Homo sapiens: one gene and its partner. The protein of the gene in region 1 interacts with the protein of each later gene in a pairwise test. Each region holds a gene or a part of one and is shown on either strand. Other genes may lie near its edges.

Region 1 (10,923 bases):
AGTAGAGTGTGACCCTCCTCACAGCCAGCAGGGCCTGTCTGCAGGACAGCCTGGGAGTACAGAACTGTCCTGGGTCCCCCGTTTGGTTTTCAGGCCCTCTTCCTGGAGCTGGCTGAGCAGGGTTTCCAGGCATCCAGCAGGTGGCACTGTCATCTGGGCTGGAGCATGCAGCCAGCAGTTCCCTTTTGCAACTCAGTTGCCTTGGCTAAGGCCCAACCAGTCCCAAGTGCTCAGGACAGAGGCTGGACGGGCTCCTTCCTGCACCCCTGCTCTTGGGACACAGTGCCCTCCGGCTCTAATAGGCCAGGAGTTGGGGGGGCAACTGGCTCTGCTCCCTGGCCCTGGCTCCCCCTGCTCCCTGGGGCTGCCCGAGGTGAAGGTGACAGGTGGGGGAGGCAGGTGGAGAATTGGGCCAGTGAGCTCATGGCAAAGGCGCCCAGCTGGGCAGGGGTGGGTGCTCTGGCCTATAAAGCCCCCGAGGCCCTGTGGCCTGCAGAGGCGGTTATGGACGGCACCATGGAGGACTCCGAGGCGGTGCAGAGGGCCACAGCGCTCATCGAGCAGCGGCTGGCACAGGAGGAGGAGAATGAGGTGCGAGCAGGGGTGGAGGTGCCCAAGGGGGTCTGAGGAGATCCAGTTCTGCTGTCAAGGGGAGGGAGATCCTGTCTGCTACACCTGTGGTGGGGAGGGGGGCAGATGTCCCCAGGGGCCCAGTTGGGCCTCATTCCTGTCCCAGGGTATTACTGGCAGGGGGTATTGCTGGCAGCAGAAGACTGAGGCTTCAGCCTTCAAAATTAAGTCAGTGAGATGGGGAGCTGGGCTGGGCTTCCTAAGACTGCTCACCCTCCTGGGCCTTGAGAGACAGTGGGCTGTACAAAGCAGACAGCTGGGTGCTGCCTGGGACTTTCAGGAATGTGTGGCCCTGTGATGCCCCAGTGACTGAGTGGGAGGCTGGGGCAGGGGAAACTCCAGTATTTGGCCAGTGAAGAAGAGAGTGAGGAAGGGATGCTGGGAAATGAAGCATGGATTTTGCCAGCCTGCTGGCCACCCTTGGGGAGTCCTTTGGCGTGTGGTGTTCTGGGCAATTGCATTTTCTCTGGGATAAGGAAGTGGAGCGGTGGCAGGGGGTGCTGGCTTGTCCTATTCTGCATTTTTTTTTTTGAGACGGGGTCTCCCTCTGTTGCCCAGGCTGGAGTGCAATGCATGATCTTGACTCACTGCAACCTCCGCCTCCTGGGTTCAAGCGATTCTCCTGCCTCAGCCTCCCGAGTAGCTGGGATTACAGGCATGCACCACCATGCCTGGCTAATTTTTGTATTTTTAGTAGAGATGGGGTTTCACTCTGTTGGTCAGGCTGGTCTCAAACTCCTGGCCTCAGATGATCCACCCACCTTGGCCTCCCAAAGTACTGGGATTACAGGTATGAGCCACCATGCCCGGCCCCTACTCTTCACTTTATTTAAACTAATACTTCATCTAGTGTTGGCTCTGCCAAGAGCCCAGAGCTGTAGAAATGGGTGGACCAATAAGGGTCAGACCCTGCCTTCTTTTTACCAACCCAGGATTCATTTTAGCCCATTTGTTGGTTTCATAGTCAACTAAGAAACAAGGCAAAGGGAAGAAATGACTAAATAGAGGTGTGAATCAGAAGTGGAGGAACACAAGGGGCTCATGAATTGTTCTGAGGGCCTTCAAGGACTCCTCTGTGGACAGGGCCAGGTGCAGTGGCTCAAGCCTGTAATCCCAGCATTTTGAGATCTGAGATCCGAGGTGGGCAGATCACTTGAAGTCAAGAGTTCGAGACTCACCTGGCCAACATGGTGAAATCCTGTCTCTACTAAAAATACAATTAGCCAGGAATGGTGTCAGGCACCTGTAATCCCAGCTACTCAGGAGGCTGAGGCAGGAGAATTGCTTGAACCTGGGAGGCGGAGGTTGCAGTAAGCCGAGATCGCACCACTGCACTTCAGCCTGGGTGACAGAGGGAGACTCCGTCTCAAAAAAAAAAAAAAGGGGACTCCTCTGTGGACAGGAGGATACCTGAGCTGGGCCTTCAAGGGGACTCAGTGGAGTCCAGGATGGTGGAGGGTATTCCAGCCTCAGGAAATGCAGGAGCTGAAGTTTCCATGAGTGAAAGCGTGGCTGTCTTGATAAAGTCTGGTAGTAGGGGCTAAGGCTGGAAAGACACAAGCCAGAGAGGGCCATGTAAAAGATATTTATTCTGTGGGCAGTGAGGAGCCACTAAATGTTATTGAGTGAGGGAGATTGGTGTCATCTGACCTATTTTAGGAAAGCAGCTCTGATGGCCCTGAGAAGGACTTGTTGGAAAAGGCTGGCCCTAGCAGGAATGGAGGGGAGGAGATAAATCAGGTTGGAGGTAGATGCCATTCAAAAAAAGGAGTGTGACTGAATGAGGGGTGAGGAGGAAGGAAGGGTCAAGACCCCAAGGGAAGAAGGGATGAGGTCAGGAAAGAGCTTGGAATGAGCCCTGGCTGGGGCAAGCATCCCTGGATCTCTAGGAATCCCACTTCTCCCTCCCCCAAGGGCATGTGCCTATGGTTGGCTGGTGCCAGGCAGGTGAGTCATGCTGCTATGCCAGTTCTGGAGTGCTGCCAATAGACACACAGACCTTCAGCAAGGGGACGCAGAGCAGTGTCTTCCGTTCATTCATCCAATAAATATAGCTACAGAGCTGTCAGGACACCAGTGCCAGGCCCTGTGCTAAGCATTTTACAGGCATTCTCCCATTTAATCTGCATAGCAATCTATGACGTAAAGTGGGAGCTTTGTGTGTTTCATGAACTCACATTCAATGCAGCAAACAGCTACTGAGCACCTACTGTGTGCCAGCCCACAAAGACAAACCTGAAATGAAGGGCTGTAGGGTCTGAGGAAGATGTGGGTGAGCATTAGAGTCCCCAGTTGTCTCTACCAGGCCCCAGCCTGGCAGGGTTCTTGGAGGAGAACCTCTGTCTAGCCTGTGCCCCATCCCCAGGGTGGGAGGGGAAAGAGGGCCCCAGAGGCCAGTGCAGGGGCTGGAGTTCCACTGTGGCGAGTTTACTGGGTTAGGTCATCACTGAGAACTTAAGGGTTAGCAGAGATGCTGAGTCTGCTTGCCATCATCCATTCGATCATTCATTCATTCACCAGTCACTAAGCACCTACTATGTGCTAGAGCCTGTCACAGATGCTGGGGACACCAAGATGATTAAGACACAAGCTCGGGAGCCACAGTGGCTCAGGCCTGTTGTCCTGGCGCATAAGGAGGCAAGGCTAGGCATTTGAGGCCAGCCTGGACAACATGGAAACCTCTCATCTATGTGACAACAACAACAAAATTTATAGCCGGGTGCAGTAGCTCACGCCTGTAATCCCAACACTTTGGGAGGCCAAGGTGGGCGGATTGCCTGAGCTCAGGAGTTTGGACCAGCCTGGGCAACATGGTGGAACCCTGTCTCTACTAAAATACAAAAATAATTAGCCAGGCGTGGCGGCATGCGCCTGTAGTCCCAGCTACTCAGGAGGCTGAGGCAGGAGAATTGCTTGAACCTAGGAAGTGGAGGTTACAGCAAGCCGAGATCACACCACCGCACTCCAGCCTGGGTGACAGAGTGGGACTCGGTCTCAAAAAAAAAAAAAAAATACACAAGCTGGCCCTCTGGATGCTCCCTGAGGAGCCCAGCCAGAGTCCCACATGCAGCAGTAGCTGCAGCCCCAGGTTATCTTTCATTCTTGGAAGAAGATGCAGTGTTTCTGATTAGGCCAGCACTGAGACCTCAAACCATGAAGCCCAACATGAAAGAGAGAAAGCAGTGGCTAACAGAACCTTCAGAATGAAGACCTGGGAAATCGGCTCTCAAAACCACCCTGAAGGAGCAAATGCGGGAGCTCAGGGAGGAATGGGAAAGGGGCCTGAGTGCTCTGTAAGGGTGGCCTCCTTCCCAGCTGCCACATTGACTCAGGACCCTCCAACCTGGGCAATTGTTCCTGGACTCATAGCCACACAAGCTGCCTGGTGGGGACTGCAGAGATGGGAGTGCCAGCACATCACAAAGAGAGAAGAAGCAGTCCAGGAAAATCAGAGGGCAAATGCAGAGAAGACCTGGCAGGCAGTTGGACCTGGATTACAGTGAAAAGAAGGTTAAGACTTAGAGCCCGTTTCAGGCTGAAGGCTGAGGAGCTGCTGCTCCCATCACCAAGTTCCCCTGAAAGCAATAGTTTCCAAGCTCTAGACTTCACAGATCAGTGAAATCTGAGAGAAAAAAAAAATAGTATCTAACAAAGAGCTGCCAAATTTTATATTGCTGAGTAAGAACATTTAAGAAGTAATCATCTCTCATCATAATCATTTCATCAAAGTGAATTATTTATTTTTAAAACTTATTTTATTTATTTATTTATTTATTTATTTATTTATTTATTTATTTTTTGAGACCGAGTCTTACTCTGCCGCCCAAGCTGGAGTATAGTGGCACGATCTTGGCTCACTGCAACCTCCACCTCCTGGGTTCAAGTGATTCTTGTGCTTCAGCCTCCCAAGTAGCTGGGACTACAGGTGCGTGCCAACACGCCTGGCTAATTTTTGTATTTTTAGTAGGGATGGGGTTTCACCATGTTGCCTATGGCTGGTCTCGAACTCCTGGGCTCAAGCAATCCACCTGCCTCGGCCTCCCAAAGTGCTTGGATTATAGGCGTGAGCCACTGTACCTGGCCTATTTATTTTTTGAGGCAGGGTCATTCTCTCTCTCTCTCACTGTCACTCAGGCTGGAGTGCAGTGGCATGACCTTGGCTCACTGCAACCTCCCCTTCCTGGGCTCAAGTAATCCTCCCACCTCAGTCTCCCAAGTAGCTGGCACTACAACAAAAGCCACTACGCTTGGCTAATTATTTAATTTTTTTGTAAAGATGGGGTCTCACTATATTGCCCAGGCTGATCTCAAACTTCTGGGCTCAAGAGATCCTCCCACCTCAGCCTCCCAAAGTGCTGGGATTATAGAGGTGAGCCACTGTGCCTGGCCTATTTATTTTTAGAGACACGATCTTGCTATGTCTCTGGAGCTGGTCTCGAACCCCTGGGATTGAGCAATACTTCTGTCTAAGCCTCCCCAGTAGCTGGGACTAAAGGCTGGCACTACCACACCCAGCCAAAGTGAATTTTTAATGCCAAAAAAGTAAAGAAAAAAATAATCTTGGTGCTTGAAAGAGTGAATATATTTAATCTCATGAAAAACTCAACTCTGGTGGCCTTTAATGTTGTTTTGCAGGGATCCAGGCCAGTTAGTGGGCAGGTGTCTGAGCTCAGGGTTGGGACTGGGGCTGAAGCTGAGGTGGGGAACTCACCCCTTTTGGGGGCCCCTCCAGGGGCCCTGCTCTTGCTGGGGGCTCCCCAGGATCAGCCAGAAGGGCTCTGAGACCACCCAGGAGGATGTCTCTGTGGGGTGTCCTTGGTGTGGTTGGGGGAGAGGCTGCCTGTCTCCTCGGGTCCTGGAGAAGGTGCCCTCTTTGGATCACCAGAAACTCCGAGGAGACGCACGCCAGAAGCTGCCCATGGACTTGCTGGTGCTGGAGGATGAGAAGCACCACGGGGCTCAGAGTGCAGCCCTGCAGAAGGTGAAGGTAAGCCTGGGAGGATCCAATGTCTGCACCCAGGGGACCAGCCAGGTAGCCATGGCCTGTCTGCACCTCTCCCCACGTGGCCCATGGACCAGCAGTTCAGCACCCCCGGTAGAGCTTGCTAGCCCTGCAGAATCTCCGCCCCGTCCCAGAACTACTGAGTCAGAATTCCCCCAATGTGAGAGCCATCTAGGCCTGGAAGGAGGGATAGACCTTGGTTCCTTCTTTCTTAAGAGGGTCTTCCTGCCCACCCCACCCTCCCCACCAGCTTAGCTCAGAGGTCTCCCAAGCCCCCCAAACTCTCTGCCCGGCCTGGGGGGTTGATGGGCCATCCCGCGCAGGGCCAAGAGCGCGTGCGCAAGACGTCCCTGGACCTGCGGCGGGAGATCATCGATGTGGGCGGGATCCAGAACCTCATCGAGCTGCGGAAGAAACGCAAGCAGAAGAAGCGGGACGCTCTGGCCGCCTCGCATGAGCCGCCCCCAGAGCCCGAGGAGATCGTAAGGGTCCTGGGGAGGACACCGCGAGGGGGCGGAGGGGGAGCCCGGGAGGCTTCGGATTGCTGGGACGGCCCGTGACTGCTGCGTCCACATCTGCAGACTGGCCCTGTGGATGAGGAGACCTTCCTGAAAGCTGCGGTGGAGGGGAAAATGAAGGTCATTGAGAAGTTCCTGGCTGACGGGGGGTCAGCCGACACGTGCGACCAGGTGATGCTCCTAGCCGCCCCTGACCAGCCTCCCTGTCAGTTGCCACCCCCACTCCGTTCGGCTCCTGGGTCAGCCCACTGTGAGCCTATTTGAGAGGAGGCACCGGTGTTCTTTGGATGGGTGGGTGGCTGGGGCGCTCAGAATGGGTGTCCCTTCCCCGTACAGGAATTGACCTAAATCCTTAAACCCTTTTCCAACTTGAATCACCTGCAGAGCAACAAATGTCACATGTTTGTTTAGGAAAGAAAGAAAAATAGAATCAAATAAAAACAGACCAGGACCAGAAGATGTGGGCTCAAATCCCATCTCTCTCACTCACGAGTTGTGGGACCTGTGGCTGGGTCGGTGCCCTCTCCATGCCTCAGTTTCCTCCTCTGTAAAATGGCCTACTTCCCTCACAACATGTTACGGTGATCAAATGGAATATTAGGCTGGGCACTGTGGCTCACGTCTGTAATCCCAGCACTTTAGGTCAAGGTGGGAGGAGCGCTTGAGCCTAGGAGTTCAAGACCAGCCTAAGCAACAGAGTGAGACCCTGTCTCTATACATATATAGATAAAGATATAGATTTTTTTTTTTTTTGGTAAAAGGAAAAAAGGAATATTAGCACCTCAGTAACTCAGTATTCACTGAATGAATGAAGAAACTATCAAGCATGTGTTAAGATATGATATTTTTGTTTCTCATGGTATAGTACTGTACTTTTTTTTTTTTTTTTTGAGACAGAGTCTCACTCTGTCACCCAGGCTGGAGTGCAGTGGCGCAATCTCAGCTCACTGCAACTTTCGCCTCTTGGGCTCAAGCAATCCTCCCACTTCAGCCTCCCAAAGTGTTGGGATTACAGGCTTGAACCACCACTCCTGGCCTATTTTTTTTTCATGGTAAAACATAACGTGAAATGTTCCACTTTAACCATTTTAAGTGTACAATTCAGTGGCATTAATTACATTCACAATGTTGTGCAGCCATATTTTCTTTTTTTTTCTTTTTCTTTTTTTTTGAGATGGAGTCTTGCTCTGTCCCCCAGGCTGGAGTGCAGCGGTGCGATCTCAGCTCACAGCAGCCTCCACCTCCCAGGTTCAAGTGATTCTCCTGCCTCAGCCTCCTGAGTAGCTGGGATTACAGGCGCCCGCCACCACACCCGGCTAATTTGTTTATTTTTAGTAGAGACAAGGTTTCAACATGTTGGCCCTTGACAACAAGCTGGTCTTGAACTCATGATCTCAGGTGATCCACCCACCTCGGCCTCCCAAAGTGCTGGGATTACAGGCATGAGCCACCGTGTCCGGCCCCTTACAGCCATATTTTCTAAATTTTTCATCACCCATCATACTTCTTTTTGTTTTGCCTGAAACTGCCTCTTTCACACTTCCCGGGGTGCTTTCTTGCTCTCGTATCCTGGAATTTGGCACATTAGTGGTTTTCCACCTTTGGTCTGCATTATTGTAGACTTGGACCACATGTCCTTTCTGTTCTTTAGACTCCAGAGTCTTCATCCTCTCAGTCTGTCCAACTACCTCCTACTTCCGAGCACCATGCTAGGTGCCAGAATACAAAAAAACAAAAAAAGCAAAACAAAACAAAAAAACAGACCAGGGTTGGTTCCTTGGGGAGACTGACATGTAACCAGATCATTAGAATAAGGAAAGATACTCACTGTGTGTGTCCTGTAACCAGATCATGAGAATATGGAAAGATATTGTGGCTTGAGCGTTTCAAAAGTCCAAGGCAGAAAGGAGAAGGGGAAAAGTTTATTCTTTCTTTGAATCAGTGATCAGTGTCACCTGTTCATGCTGGCCTTGTGCTAGGCACTTGGGGAGTCCAGCAAGACTTGACCTGCCCTCGAACACACTCTCACAGTTAAGGGTCATCTGGGCCCTAGGGAAGCCCTGGCCTAGAGGTTTCAAGGAAATGATGGCATTTGAGCTGCATCTTGAAGGAGTAGCAGATTTTATCAAGCACTCCCAGGAAGTGAGGGCAAAACAGGCATGCTTGGCAGAGGAAACCACCTGTAGAGAGGCATGGCTTGATGTGCCTGGGGGGCAGTGAGAAGGTCGGGTTCCCTGGGGCAGAGGGCTCCCAGGCTGGTCTGGATAGAGCATAAGGGAGCTGGCAGAACACAGAAAACATGGGGGCCAAGCACAGGGGTGAGAATCAAGCTGGGGGGAAGGCCTGGGCCTCAGCTTGGGTGGGAGATGGGCTCAGGCCTGGAGCCAGAGGCCAGGCCCTGACAGCCTCTCTGGGGACAGTTCCGTCGGACAGCACTGCACCGAGCTTCCCTGGAAGGCCACATGGAAATCCTGGAGAAGCTTCTAGATAATGGGGCCACTGTGGACTTCCAGGATCGGGTGAGTGAGAGGGCAGGTATTCAATGGGAGACAGGAGGTGGGTCCAGCACTGACAGACACCCTCTCCCTGCCACCTGTGCCAACCTGAAGCATAAACAGGTTGCTCAGGTGCCAGACTCCACCTCAGTGGCTTATGTGACCTTGAGTAAGCCCCTTCTCCTCCCTAAGCATCCTCTGTGAGTCTGGCTTGGACCAGATGGGCCCTGAGTGTTCTTCTGTTCCACTTGGTCCATTGCCCATGCCCAGGCCTGCTCCCTGTACCTTTCCCCTAGATATCCCTCTGCCTTCCTGGCTGGGGTACATTACCCCCGAATACTTTCTTCCCTGCAGCTCTGTAGTTAGACCCCCTCATTTCTTTCTAGCTGGACTGCACAGCCATGCATTGGGCCTGCCGCGGGGGCCACTTAGAGGTGGTGAAACTTCTGCAAAGCCATGGAGCAGACACCAATGTGAGGGATAAGGTGAGGCAAAAACACTCAGAAGCAACAGATATTGGGGTGGCTGTGGGGAGAAAGGCAGGGGTCCAAGGGCAGGAAAGCCTAGGGGGCAGGAAGGTAGTGAGCTAGTCTGGTTTCTGGCTGCAGAGCAGGGAAGCTAAAACAGTGTCCTACTGGGCCTCCCAGCCCAGGGATGGGTCCCTGCCATCCACACAGGCCCTTGAGGAACCACCATCTGAGGATAGGAGCAGGAAGAGCAGACAAGAAGGGAAGACAAGAGACTCACTGTGTTGGGGGCTTTGGGACCACTCAAAAGATGCAAGATTTGTTCATGTTATCTGTCATTATCCTTCTGTCTACCTATCTATTCATCTATCCGTCTATCCATCCATCCATTCCTCCATTTATTCATCCCCTCATTCATTTATTTATTTATGCACCATCCTTCTATTCATTCATTATTTCATGTACAACCTTGAACAAGTGACAGCCTCTGAGCTTCTGTTGCTCATCTGTGAAATGTCTTGCAGAGTTCTTGTGTAGCTTAGGTGGGAAAACATGTGTAAATGAATTATTTATTCAACATAAGGCAAATGTCTTGTAAGCTTTTGCCATGTCCATTACATAGTCATCTCTCAATAAATGACATATATTATGATTATTAAAAGAAGGGTAGAAGAGTGAGCAGCTGGGTGAGAGGAGAATCACAGAAGGCTTCCCAGAGGAAGTGGCATTTAAGGCTTTAGAGTTAGGCCATTGGATAGGATGGTAAGAAATTGTACCATTCTCTGCCCCTCCAAGGCTCAGGCCTTGGCACTAGGACTTGGAAGAGGGATTAAGCTGGAGTTAGGACAGCCCCCGCCTTCCCAGGGGTACCACAGTTCAGGCCCCGTCAACTAGCAGTTCCTGATTCCTCCCACCCAGCTGCTGAGCACCCCGCTGCACGTGGCAGTCCGGACAGGGCAGGTGGAGATTGTGGAGCACTTTCTATCCCTGGGCCTGGAAATCAATGCCAGAGACAGGGTGAGTGCTAGCCTGTCCGCTGCTCACCCGCCATGGGTGTGTGGGCAGCCTGCGGGCCCCTACAGGTGGTGTCCTTCCTCCTGGGGCCTTCAGGACTTGGCTCCTGAGCAGGGTCTCCAGCCCACCTCCCATCACCCTTGCCTCCTCCCACTGCCCACAAGGGCCATAGTGAGTGCCACACTGACTCTAGGAAGGGGATACTGCCCTGCATGACGCTGTGAGGCTCAACCGCTACAAAATCATCAAACTGCTGCTCCTGCATGGGGCTGACATGATGACCAAGAACCTGGTAAGCTCATTCCCTCCTTGATTCAGTCACTGGCGTGAGCACTCATACAGTGGAGGTGCTGTCCTGGTCCCTGGAGCAGCCCCCGCCTAGGGACATGTATCATTGGCTCTGGCCAGCACCATAGTACATAAACTTGTCCTCTTCCAGAGCACCATTCCAACTGTCCGCCCCATTCTCTATGTGTGTCTATGTCCAGAGTGCAAGTGCAGAGAGACAGCAGGAGGGGCAGCAAGAGGACTTCCCAAAGACCCCCAAGTAGGCCAGAGGGGGTCCTCAAGTACTGGCCCAAGGAGGCCAGAATCATGAAAGGCCAGAGCTGGAAGGGACCGAGCACTCAGCTGGCATGACAGTTCCTAGCACCCCATGTCAGCTCCTGTGGTCTTTGAGTTTTCTTAGGATCTAGGCAGGAAGTCCTTGGAAGGGGAAGGTGCCCAGGGAACACCTTGGACTAGGGAACACTTAGTCCAAGTTCTTCTTTGGGGCCCAGAGCATTCACAAAAGGAGG
Region 2 (10,923 bases), on another chromosome or scaffold:
GTAATTTTCTGATGGCTGATTCTTCTAGCCTGTCTCTTACAGTTCCAATTGCACATGTCCTCCCTCTTTAACGCTGGAAAACTGAGATGGAAAGAATGATCTGACCAGAAGAATGTAGGGTCCAAACAGGGCCTGGCCCTGAAATCAGGAATTTCTTCATAGAAATATCAGATTTTAATGTTTAAAAAATAATTTTGAATTGGGTGAAAGGAACTTTGTCTTTAGATAGTAGTTGTTCAAACATGTTTATGAAGTGTTTGCTATGTGCCAGGGATTGTAAAGTCATTTCACATATGTTACATCATTTATTAAGAATTGCCTTAAGCTTGTAAAATTATTCATTGATGTCCTGAATTCAGTAATTGCAGTTAATCTAGAAAATATGCCAGATTTGAGCAGAACATATTTGATCACCTAGGTATTACTGTTGAGAAGAAAACACTGGAAAATGGAGACTATTTTAGAAAAAACTTCGTATATGAGGATATTCTGGAATTCATTTATTTGCAAAAGAGGATTAGAAGTAGTCGTTGGCTACTTTCTGTTATTAAAAAATCCAGAGAAGAGTGATTTGAAGTCAGTTAATTTTGTAATAAAAAAATGCACACATTCTAAAGACTAATGTTAGCACTAAAAGTGTTGCAGTGCTTTACATAAATTCATTTAAAGCATCGTGAGAATCATAACTGACAAAATAGTAAGGTTTGCTGACTCAGGGTACTTTGCTGAAGGGGATGGGGGTCGGGTAGGAGGAAGCTTACAAGTGCTGCTGCAAGTTTTGAGTTGGATGATGACTCATGCTGCCCACGGACTGCTACGTGGCTTTTTTTTTTTTTTTTTTTAAATACACTGTATTTTTTTCTAAATGATAGGCTAAAATGTTCCTGTCCACATTGAAATTCTCTCTCATTTTTTCTGAAGAGGAACAGCAGTTTCTCTAAAAAAGTAATGGCTTCTTAAATTGCATTTTAAAAGGATATCATATACCCTACAGGTGGAATTGTGTAACATTTGCTGAGAGGAAAGGTAAAACCAATTTCTGGTCAGGTGCTGAAATTAAATGTTTGATACTAGCAGTTTTTTGGCTACTGCTGAGAGAGATTTGTTACAGGTTGTTTATAAAGGACAGATAGTACTTTTATGGTGTCGGTAGAAATTGACCTTATGTTTTTATTGGTTATGTGAAAGTTATCTTTATATTTAATATTTAATCAGATATGGCTCTGAATATGAAAGTTTCACTCAGAATTATTAAAACATAATTATATATTGTGCTTTGTGATTTATGTGAATTTTCTGTTTTAATAAAGACAATTTGAAATAGGTATTAGTCACTATTTTTCATGGTTTTTTTTTAAAGATAAGCTGAATGTACAGTTCTAAGTTGAAACTTGGTAATAAGATAAATCTTTTGACTGATTTTAAAACAGCCAACGTTTAGCAAGGTGGCTTAAAATAAGATTGAGAGGGGGAAAAAGATTGAGAATGGCAGTTTAAGAGTGGGGCTGGGTGCGTTGGCTCACACCTGTAATCCCGGCACTTTGGGAGCCTGAGGTGGAAGGATCGCTTGAGGCCAGGAGTTCAAGACCAGTCTGGGCAACATAACGAGACCCTGTCTCAATTTTTAAAATAAAAGAAAAAAAATTTCCCACCCCATCCTCTGGTTTTTCTGTGTATACTGTTTATTTTTCCAAAGGGATTTGAGGAGTTTGTGGACAGTAAAGTGTTTGTTGTTTTTGTGAGACAGGGTCTTGCTCTGTCACCCTGGCTGGAGTGTAGTGGTGCGATCACTGTTCACTGCAACCTCTACTTCCCGGGCTCAGGTGATCTTCCTGCCTCAGCCTCCGGAGGAGCTGGGACTACAGCTGTGTGCGACCATGCCTGGCTAGTTTTTCGTATTTTTTGTAGAGATGAATGTTCACAGTGTTGCCCAGGCTGTTCTTGAACTCCTGGGCTCAAGCAATCTGCCTGCCTCAGCCTTCCAGAGTGTTGGGATTACAGGTGTGAGCCCCTGCTCCCAGCCCATAAAATGTATTGTTAATGTGAATTAAATTTTTGGAACTATTTTGGAAGAGTATTGCATGATTTATACCTAGAGGTTTTTTTTTTACAAAGTTTAATTCAAACTTAAAAAAAATTTCCTACTAGAGGAAACATAAAAATACAAATATAAAAGTATTGAAAATTTTCAGAGCATCACATTACTTAGAGGTTTAACGTATTTTCGGCATTGTTTTCAAATATAGGTAATTAGCTGTAGTGCATAATTCAGAGTTTAAAAACAAACTGAGGCCGGGGGCAGTGGCTAACGCTTGTAATCCCAGCACTTTGGGAGGCTGAGGAGGCAGATCACGAGGTCAGGAAATCGAGACCATCCTGGCCAACATGGTGAAACCCCGTCTCTAATAAAATACAAAAATTAGCTGGGTGTGGTGGCACGTGCCTGTAATCCCAGCTACTCAGGAGGCTGAGGCAGGAGAATCGCTTGAACCCGGGAGGCAGAGGTTGCAGTGAGCCGAGATTGTGCCAGTGCACTCCAGCCTGGGTGACAGAGCGAGACTCCGTCTCAAAAAAAAAAAAAAAAAAAAAACCGAAAAACAAACAAAATAACTGGATATCTTAGCCTGCTTCCTGTCTCCAAGGTACTGCTTTATGAAATGCTGAGCCTTCTTACCACTGCTATCCAGTTCTTTGTTACATTTGAACCTTGTGTTACTCTAGGTCCCCTGTTAAAATGGAAAGAAGATGCCTCAGAAGTAAATTCTGTGTGGCATTGTTGGCTGCCTTCATTAGTTCCTTCAGCCTGTTTTGTGGGCTGTTGAACATTACACTACAACCTGCCAGTGGTGTGGGAATTTTGCTCATTTTTATTGCTGAGAGCCTTGACTGAGACTTCACAAAAACAACTCCAATGTTACTGTAGTTAATGGCATTTTCCAGGGGTTGCTTTCATGTGAAGCTGATGCTTTTAAGGTGACAGTGATTTGGGCCTAGTCCAGCATTGATTGGTTTTTTCACCTCCATGAACTGCGTATTTGGAAAATAATGTGTGTCTCTCTAAGAGTTTTTTTGTTTGTTTGTTTTTTGTTTTTGAGACGCTGTCTCCCTCTGTTGCCAGGCTGGAGCGCAGTCGCGCCATCTCGGCTCACTGCAACCTCCACCTCCTAGGTTCAAGCGATTCTTCAGCTTCAGCCTCCCGAGTAGCTGGGACTACAGGTGCGCACCACCATGACCAGCTAATTTTTGTATTTTTTTTAGTACAGACAGGGTTTCATTATGTTGGCCAGGATGGTCTCATCTCCTGACCTTGTGATCCGCCTGCCTGGGCCTCCCAAAGTGCTGGGATTACGGGCATGAGCCACCGCGCCCAGCCAATAGAGTTCTAAAAGTTTTGTCTTTTATACATGTCAGTCTTCTAAGTCCATTTCTAAAAAATTGTTCAGAGATTGAATGTTTGTATAGCAAATACAATTTCCCATTGATTTTCGTTAAATTTGGTATTTTTTTCACAGAAAAAAATGGTATCATAAAACTTGTTTTTTAGAATCCTAGCATTTACCTCAGAAAAGTCTGCCTCTGCAGAAAGTGCAAATCTGTATGCATTTAATTCTGTACAATCATAAAACTTTAAAATATTAGTGTTTTGGAGGGGTCATGGGCATTATCTTGCTTCATTCATGTACATCGTTTGACAGCTAAGGAAACCAAGGCCTGAAGAGATCTAAGATCTTGGTACTGAAAGTGTGATTTCTGGACCAACAGTATTAGCATCACCTGGGAACTTGATAGACGTTAGAATCTTGACTTCATCTCAGTCCTACGGTCCTACTGAATTAGAATCTTAGAATCTACTTTTTCTTTTTCTTTTTTTTTTTTTTTGGAGACGGAGTCTCACTCTGTCACCCAGGCTAGAGTGCAGTGGCACGATCTTGGCTCACTGCAAGCTCCGCCTCCTGGGTTCACGCCATTCTCTTGCCTCAGCCTCCTGAGTAGCTGGGACTACAGCTGCTGCCACCGCGCCTGGCTAATTTTTTGTGTTTTTAGTAGAGACGGGGTTTCACCGTGTTAGCCAGGATGGTCTCGATTTCCTGACCTTGTGATCCGCCCGCCTCGGATCCGCCCGCCCGCCCAGCACTCCCAAAGTGCTGGGATTACAGGTATGAGCCACCGCGCCCGGCCTTCTTTTTTTGTAAATAAGAGGCACAATCTTGCCCTGTTGCCCAGTTTGGATTGGAGTGTAGTGGTGTGATCATAACGCACTGCCACCTGGAACTCCTGGACTCAAGTAATCCTCTCACCTCAGTAGCTGGGACTACAGGCATGTGCCATCATACACTGCCTTTTTTTTTTTTTTTTTTTTTTTTAAGAATTGGAGTCTCACTGTGTTGCCCATGCTCGTCTCAAACTCCTGGCCTCCTAACGTGCTGGGAAGAACCTGCATTTTAACAAGATTTTCAAGTCATTCAGTGCGCATTCAGTTTGAGAAGCACTGCTAAACGATGCATACACCTGGGCAACATAGTGAGACCCTGTCTCTACAAAATAAAATAAAATTAGCCTGTTGTAGTGGTGCACACCTTTAGTCCCAGCTACTTATGAGGCTGAGATGAGAGGATTGCTTGAGCCCAGGAGGTTGAGGCTGCAGTGAGCCGTGATCGCACCGCAGCGTTCCAGCCTGGGCAACAGCAAGAGACCCTGTCTCAAAAAATACGTAAATAAATAAAAATTAAAATGATGCATACATGGTTGCTCAGCTCGTTAGTCTTCTGAGTTGCTCTTTCCACTGGCCCTTCTGAAAAAAGTCAAATGGAAAATTTGGAAGCTAATCACTGCCCAGTTGAACTTTCTATGATGATAGAAGTGTTCTGTGCTATCCAGTGAGGTAGCCATTGGCCATGTGTGACTGTTGAATACTTGACGAGCAAGTAGTGCACTTGAGGAATTGAATTTTTTATTTAATTTTAATTCCTTTAAATAGTTGGGGCTGGGCGCCGTGGCTCACGCCTGTAATGCCAGCACTTTGGGAGGCTGAGGCGGGCGGATCACGAGGTCAGGAGATCGAGACCATCCTAGCTAACATGGTGAAACCCTGTCTCTACTAAAAATACAAAAAATTAGCCGGGTGGCGGGCGCCTGTAGTCCCAGCTGCTTGGGAGGCTGAGGCAGGAGAATGGCATGAACCCAGGAGGCGGAGCTTGCAGTGAGCGCCACTGCACTCCAGTCTGGGTGACAGAGCAAGACTACGTCTCAAAAAAAAATAAAAATAGTTGGATGTAGCTGGTGGTTACATGGACAGCACAGATCTAGATGATCTTTGCCCACTCTAAAATCTAAGCTGTAATTTAATAACTGGTTAGACTCAGTTTAATAATTGTCCTTTCTTAATGTACAAATTGGAGAGAGAGTATGTTGACTTAGTTTTTCTAATATGCCCAGATATTATTTCAGTATGTATTATAAAACAGTGCTGATTTTCTAATTGATACATCTGTGTTCAATAAAGTAGATAATCTAAGTTGTAAGCAAGTCAGTTTCTTTCCATCTTAACAGGTATTTTCACTTGAATTTTTAAAAAGTAGCTATTAAGTTTTCCTTAGTTATCCTGTGGAAAGCATTGGCAGGATAGTTTTTGCCTCTGGCCTAGTCCCTCTAGGCTTGTTGGCACTTGTTGATTACTTCCAGATTGATCTGCTGTTTATGTTAATTCCAGGTACCGAAACAGTGGTTCTTAACCTCCTACCTTTTTTTGTTTTGTTGTTGTCGTTGTTTTGAGACGGAGTTTTGCTCTTATTGTTCAGGTTGGAGTGCAATGGTGTGATCTTCGCTCACTGCAGCCTCCGCCTCCTGGGTTCAAGTGATTCTCCTGCTGCAGCCTCCCAAGTAGCTGGGATTACAGGCATGCACCACCACGCCCAGCTAATTTTATGTTTTTAGTAGAGATGGGGTTTCAACCATGTTGGCCAGGCTGGTCTTGAACTCCTGACCTCAAGTGATCCACCCGTCTCGGCCTCCCAAAGTGCAGGGATTACAGGCGTGAGCCACCGTGCCTGGCCTTAACCTCCCACCTTATGCAGTGGGAAGATTCTAACCCTATAGTCACAGGCCTATGTCCAAATCTTGGCATTTACTGTGTGTGTAAAGAGCATCAGTGCTCTTGTTTGTAAAATGACATTTACAAGACTGTAGTTTGAGATGAGAGAAATAATTTGTCATTTAGAAAATGCCTGTCATGGCTGGGCGCGATGGCTCATGCCTGTAATCTCAGCACTTTGGGAGGCCGAGGCAGGCGGATCACAAAGTCAGGAGTTCTAGACTAGCCTGGCCAACATGATGAAAACCCGTCTTTACTAAAATACAAAAAATTAGCTGAGTATGGTGGTGCATACCTGTACTCCCAGCTACTCTGAAGGCCCAGGCAGGAGAATCGCTTGAACCCAGGAGGCGGAGGTTGCAGTGAGCCGAGATCACACCATTGCACTCCAGCCTGGGCGACAGAGCAATACTCTGTCTTGAAAAAAGAAAATGCCTGTCACAGCCGGGCGCGGTGGCTAATGCCTGTAATCCCAGGACTTTGGGAGGCCGAGGCGGGCGGATCACAAGGTCAGGAGTTCAAGACCAGCCTGGCCAGCGTGGTGAAACCCCATCTCTACTAAAAATACGAAAAAACTGGCCATGGTAGCGTATGCCTGTAATCCCAGCTACTCGGGAGGCTGAGACAGAAAAATTGCTTGAACCCAGCAGGCGGAGCTTGCAGTGAGCCGAGATCGTGCCACTGTACTCCAGGCTGGGTGACAGAGCGAGACTCCCTCTCAAAAAAAAAAAAAAAAAAAGAAAATGCCTGTCACATAATAGGTCCTTAGTAGATGTAAGTTACCTACCCTCCCCCTCCTGCTTGGATTTTATAGCCCTCTGTAATTGAGTTTTATGCTTAAGATTCCAATCAGGCTTAATACATATTCTGAGTCTTCATCTCTACCCGTTACTGTAATTTCATGCCTTGCTTTGTTCATGTTGTATCCCATGTAGATTGTGCCATTTGTGCTCTGGATGTCTTCTCTTGACTTTTTTTTTAATCTTAATTTTTTTTTTTTTTTTTATAGGCGGGGTCTCCCTGTGTTGCCCAGGCTGGGCTCAAGCAATCATCCTGACTCGGCCTCAAAAAGTGCTGGGATTACAGGCATGAGCCACTCTGCTCAGCCTGTTGATTTCTCTTTATTTATTTATTTATTTATTTATTTATTTACTGTTTTTTGAGATGGAGTCTCACTCTGTTGGCCAGGTTGGAGTGCAGTGGCACGATCTTGGCTCACTGCAGCCTCTGCGTCCCAGATTCAGGTGATTCTTCTGCCTCAGCCTCTTGAGTAGTTGGGACTGCAGGTGCCCACCACCACGCCCGGCTAATTTTTGTATTTTTTTTTTTTTTTTTTTTTTTTGAGACGGAGTCTCGCTCTGTTGCCCAGGCGGAGTGCAGTGGTGCGATCTCAGCTCACTGCAAGCTCTGCCTCCCAGGTTCACGCCATTCTTCTGCCTCAGCTTTCCGAGTAGCTGGGACTACAGGCGCCTGCCACCACGCCCGGCTAATTTTTTGTATTTTTAGTAGAGACAGGGTTTCACCGTGTTAGCCAGGATGGTCTCGATCTCCTGACCTTGTGATCCGCCCGCCTCGGCCTCCCAAAGTGCTGGGATTACAGGTGTGAACCACCGCGCCCGGCAATTTTTGTATTTTTAGTAGAGACGGATTCGTCTCTGTGTTGACCAGGCTGGTCTTGAACTACTGACCTCAAGTGATTCATCTGCCTTGGCCTCCCAAAGTGCTGGGATTACAGGAGTGAGCCATCGCACCCTGCCAGCCTGTTGACTTCTTAAGGACTTACCTCGTTCTTGCCTACATCATGAATTTTTCCCTTTCTGGATTATCTTTATTAATATGCAGATGTGCTTTAGGGCTGTACTGTCCAGTATGGTAGCTACTAATCAATAGTGCTTTCTGCAATGAAATGTGTGGCTGTTAAAAGAAAAATTTAAAAAATTTAGGTCCTCAGTGATGCTAGTCATATTTCAGTTGTTCAGTAGCCATATATGGTGCTAATGGCTGCTCTATTGGACAGTGCAGATATAGAACATCCCTATCATTGCAGACAACACTATTGGACAGCACTAAGTGTGGCTTCCTTGTTTATAAGCCCTCTCGCCATTCCACATTATTCTCTAGCTACAGCCTCATTTCTCTGATTCTCTTCCAAGCCAGTTTTCAAAAGTTGTCTTTTTGTGCTCTCTCCACTTCCCTTTGCTTCTCAGCCTACTACAGATTGGCCTCCATTCTTACCACTAAAACTACTCTAGTCAAGGTTGCCAGTGGTTTCTATTTACTAAATTAGTCTTACAGGCTCTTGTAGGAGCATTCAATATAGTTGACCACTGTTTTCGGCCTATTCATCTACTTCTCATTTTATGAGACATATGTTCTTGTTTTCCTTCTACTTTACACCTTGTTATACTGTATGCTTTTTTTTGTTTCTGAGACGGAGTCTCGCTGTCGTCCAGGTTGGAGTGCAGTGGCGCAATATTGGCTCACTGCAACCTCCATCTACTGGGTTCAAGTGATTATCCTGCCTCAGCCTCCCCAGTAGCTGGGATTACAGGCGCACACCACCACGCCTGGCTAATTTTTGTATTTTTAGTAGAGATGGGGTTTCACCATGTTGGTCAGGCTGGTCTCGGAACTCCTGACCTCAGCCTCCTTATTACAGGCATAAGCCACTGCACCTAGCTTTGTTTTTTTTTAATTATTAAACAGGCTTCTCTCCTTTACCTGCCTCTAAGTATTGGCATACCTAAGACAGGATAAAACTCCTGGGTTTTTTTTTCACCCTCTTTTTCTAAATTCTTCCCTAGATGGTCTCATTCAACTCATTGTTTTAAATGCCATCTGTATGTGAATAATTCTCATATTTATGTTTCTGGTTTAGACTTCTTGCCTGAGCTCCAGACATATTATCCAACTGCCTTGCTAGACATTACCACTTAGTAACCTAGTAGGCAGTTGTCTAAATATACCTAACATGTCCAAAATAGAACTCTCTTCCATAATATTCTTCCAGTCTTTCTCTCTTCTGTAACTGGCACCTAGGATTTATCCTTGAATCCTGTTTTTCCCTTATCCCCATAGCTAATCCATCATCAAGTTCTTTTGGTCTCCAAAATATCACTTAAATCTGTTTATTCAATTATCTGTTTTACATCTTTATTTCTGCCACCTTAGTCTCAGCCACCATTATGTCACCTGGCTTACTGAAATAGCTCTTAACTGGTCTTTGCTTTTACTCAGCTACCTTCTTCAGACATTCTTCTCCCAGTAACAAGAATCTTCTTTCAGAAATGTAAATGAAATAATGTAGATTGCCTGCTTAAAATGGTTTCATAGTTTTTCTTTGGTCTTAGTTATGAGATTCAGAATCCTGCCTCATGTGTTCCTTCCTTCCTCATTGCTACCTCCTTTCCTTTGCCCTTTGCTGTGGATGCTGTGGCTACACTGGCATTTCTTTTGCTCCAAAATGCCAAGTTTTATCCTGCCTTAGGTTTGTTCAATTTGTTGTTTCCTCTGTTAGGAATGCCCTTCTCCCATCTCTTAGCAGTGCTGGTAGCTTCTTATTCAGGTTTCAGCTCCTCAGAGGGCCATTTCCCAGCTACTAGGCCAAATCTGAATTTGTTAATTAGCTAACATGTTTGTTGGTCTTTCCTTACTAGAATGCGAGCTCTTCGGAAGCAGAAGAACCTTGTCTGTCTTATTCTCTACTATATTGTCAAACAGTGCCTGGCACATGCTAAGTGCTCAGTAAATTTTTGTGGACTGTATAAAATGTTTGATTCCTTTAAATCTCAGAAGGGAAAAACTGCATAATAATTGCATTGTACCCAGTGTAACGTGATTCTGGACTGGGTCCTTTACCTCCCAAGTACATGATTGAGATAATTGCAGAAACTTAAATGGGGCCTGATTATCAGATGGTAGTACTATACCAGCGTTAATTTCTTGATTTTGATGGTTGTGTTTTAGTTATGCAGAAGAAGGCTTTTTTTTTTTTTTTTTTTTTTTTTTTTTTGAGGCAGAGTCTCACTCTGTTGCCCAGGATGAAGGAGTACAGCGGTGCAATCTTGGCTCAGTGCAACCTGCGCTTCCCAGGTTCAAGGGATTCTCCTGCCTCAGCCTCCCGAGTAGCTGGGACTACAGGCGTGTGCCACCATGCCCAGCTAATTTTTTTTTTTTTTTTGAGACAGGCTCTCAGTCTGTTACCCAGGCTGGAATGCAGTGGCGTGATCTCGGCTGACTGCAGTCTCTGCCTCCTGGGTTCAAGCAATTCTCGTGCCTCAGCCTCCTGAGTGGCTGGGATTACAGGCATGTGCCACCATGCCTGGCTCATTTTTTTGTATTTTTAGTAGAGACAGGGTTTCACCATGTTGGTCAGTTTGGTCTTAAACTCTTGACCTCAAAGGATCCACCCGCCTTGGCCTCCCAAAGTGCTGGGATTACAGGTGTGAGCCACCATGCCTGGCCTTAATTTTTGTATTTTTAGTAGAGAGACAGGGTTTCCCCCTGTTGGCCAGGCTGGTCTCAAACTCCTCACTTGAAGTGATCCGCCCACCTTGTCCTCCCAATGTGCCGGGACTACAGGTGTGAGCCACTGCCCCCAGCCAGAAGAAGGTCTTTGTCTATAGGAAATATACTCTACTCAAAAGGTTGGGGAGTGAAGGGAGATATGTACTATACTTGTCAATAAAAAAATAAGTTACAGTGAGAGATAATGGAATTTGGTTTACAAACCTGGTTCAAATCCTGGCTCTCTCATTCATGTGTGATCTTGAATGTGTTTTTTAAGTTCTCTAAAATAAAGATTATATTTTGCCTATTTTGCCTATTGGGAG

Evidence for each region.
Region 2: the proteins of ANKRD2 (region 1) and MAPK6 interact in binary tests that used the Homo sapiens proteins (3 or more experiments, as listed by UniProt).

What each region holds. Positions count from the first base shown.
Region 1 is NC_000010.11:97,572,285-97,583,207, forward strand, and holds the start of ANKRD2 (ankyrin repeat domain-containing protein 2), read left to right. Parts: upstream 1-504; coding exon 505-591; intron 592-5,515; coding exon 5,516-5,617; intron 5,618-5,955; coding exon 5,956-6,114; intron 6,115-6,213; coding exon 6,214-6,321; intron 6,322-8,570; coding exon 8,571-8,669; intron 8,670-9,031; coding exon 9,032-9,130; intron 9,131-10,030; coding exon 10,031-10,129; intron 10,130-10,319; coding exon 10,320-10,418; intron 10,419-10,923. UniProt on the Homo sapiens protein: Functions as a negative regulator of myocyte differentiation. May interact with both sarcoplasmic structural proteins and nuclear proteins to regulate gene expression during muscle development and in response to muscle stress.
Region 2 is NC_000015.10:52,020,539-52,031,461, forward strand, and holds part of MAPK6 (mitogen-activated protein kinase 6), read left to right. Parts: exon of another isoform or gene 1-1,026; intron 1,027-7,100; exon of another isoform or gene 7,101-7,335; intron 7,336-10,923. UniProt on the Homo sapiens protein: Atypical MAPK protein. Phosphorylates microtubule-associated protein 2 (MAP2) and MAPKAPK5.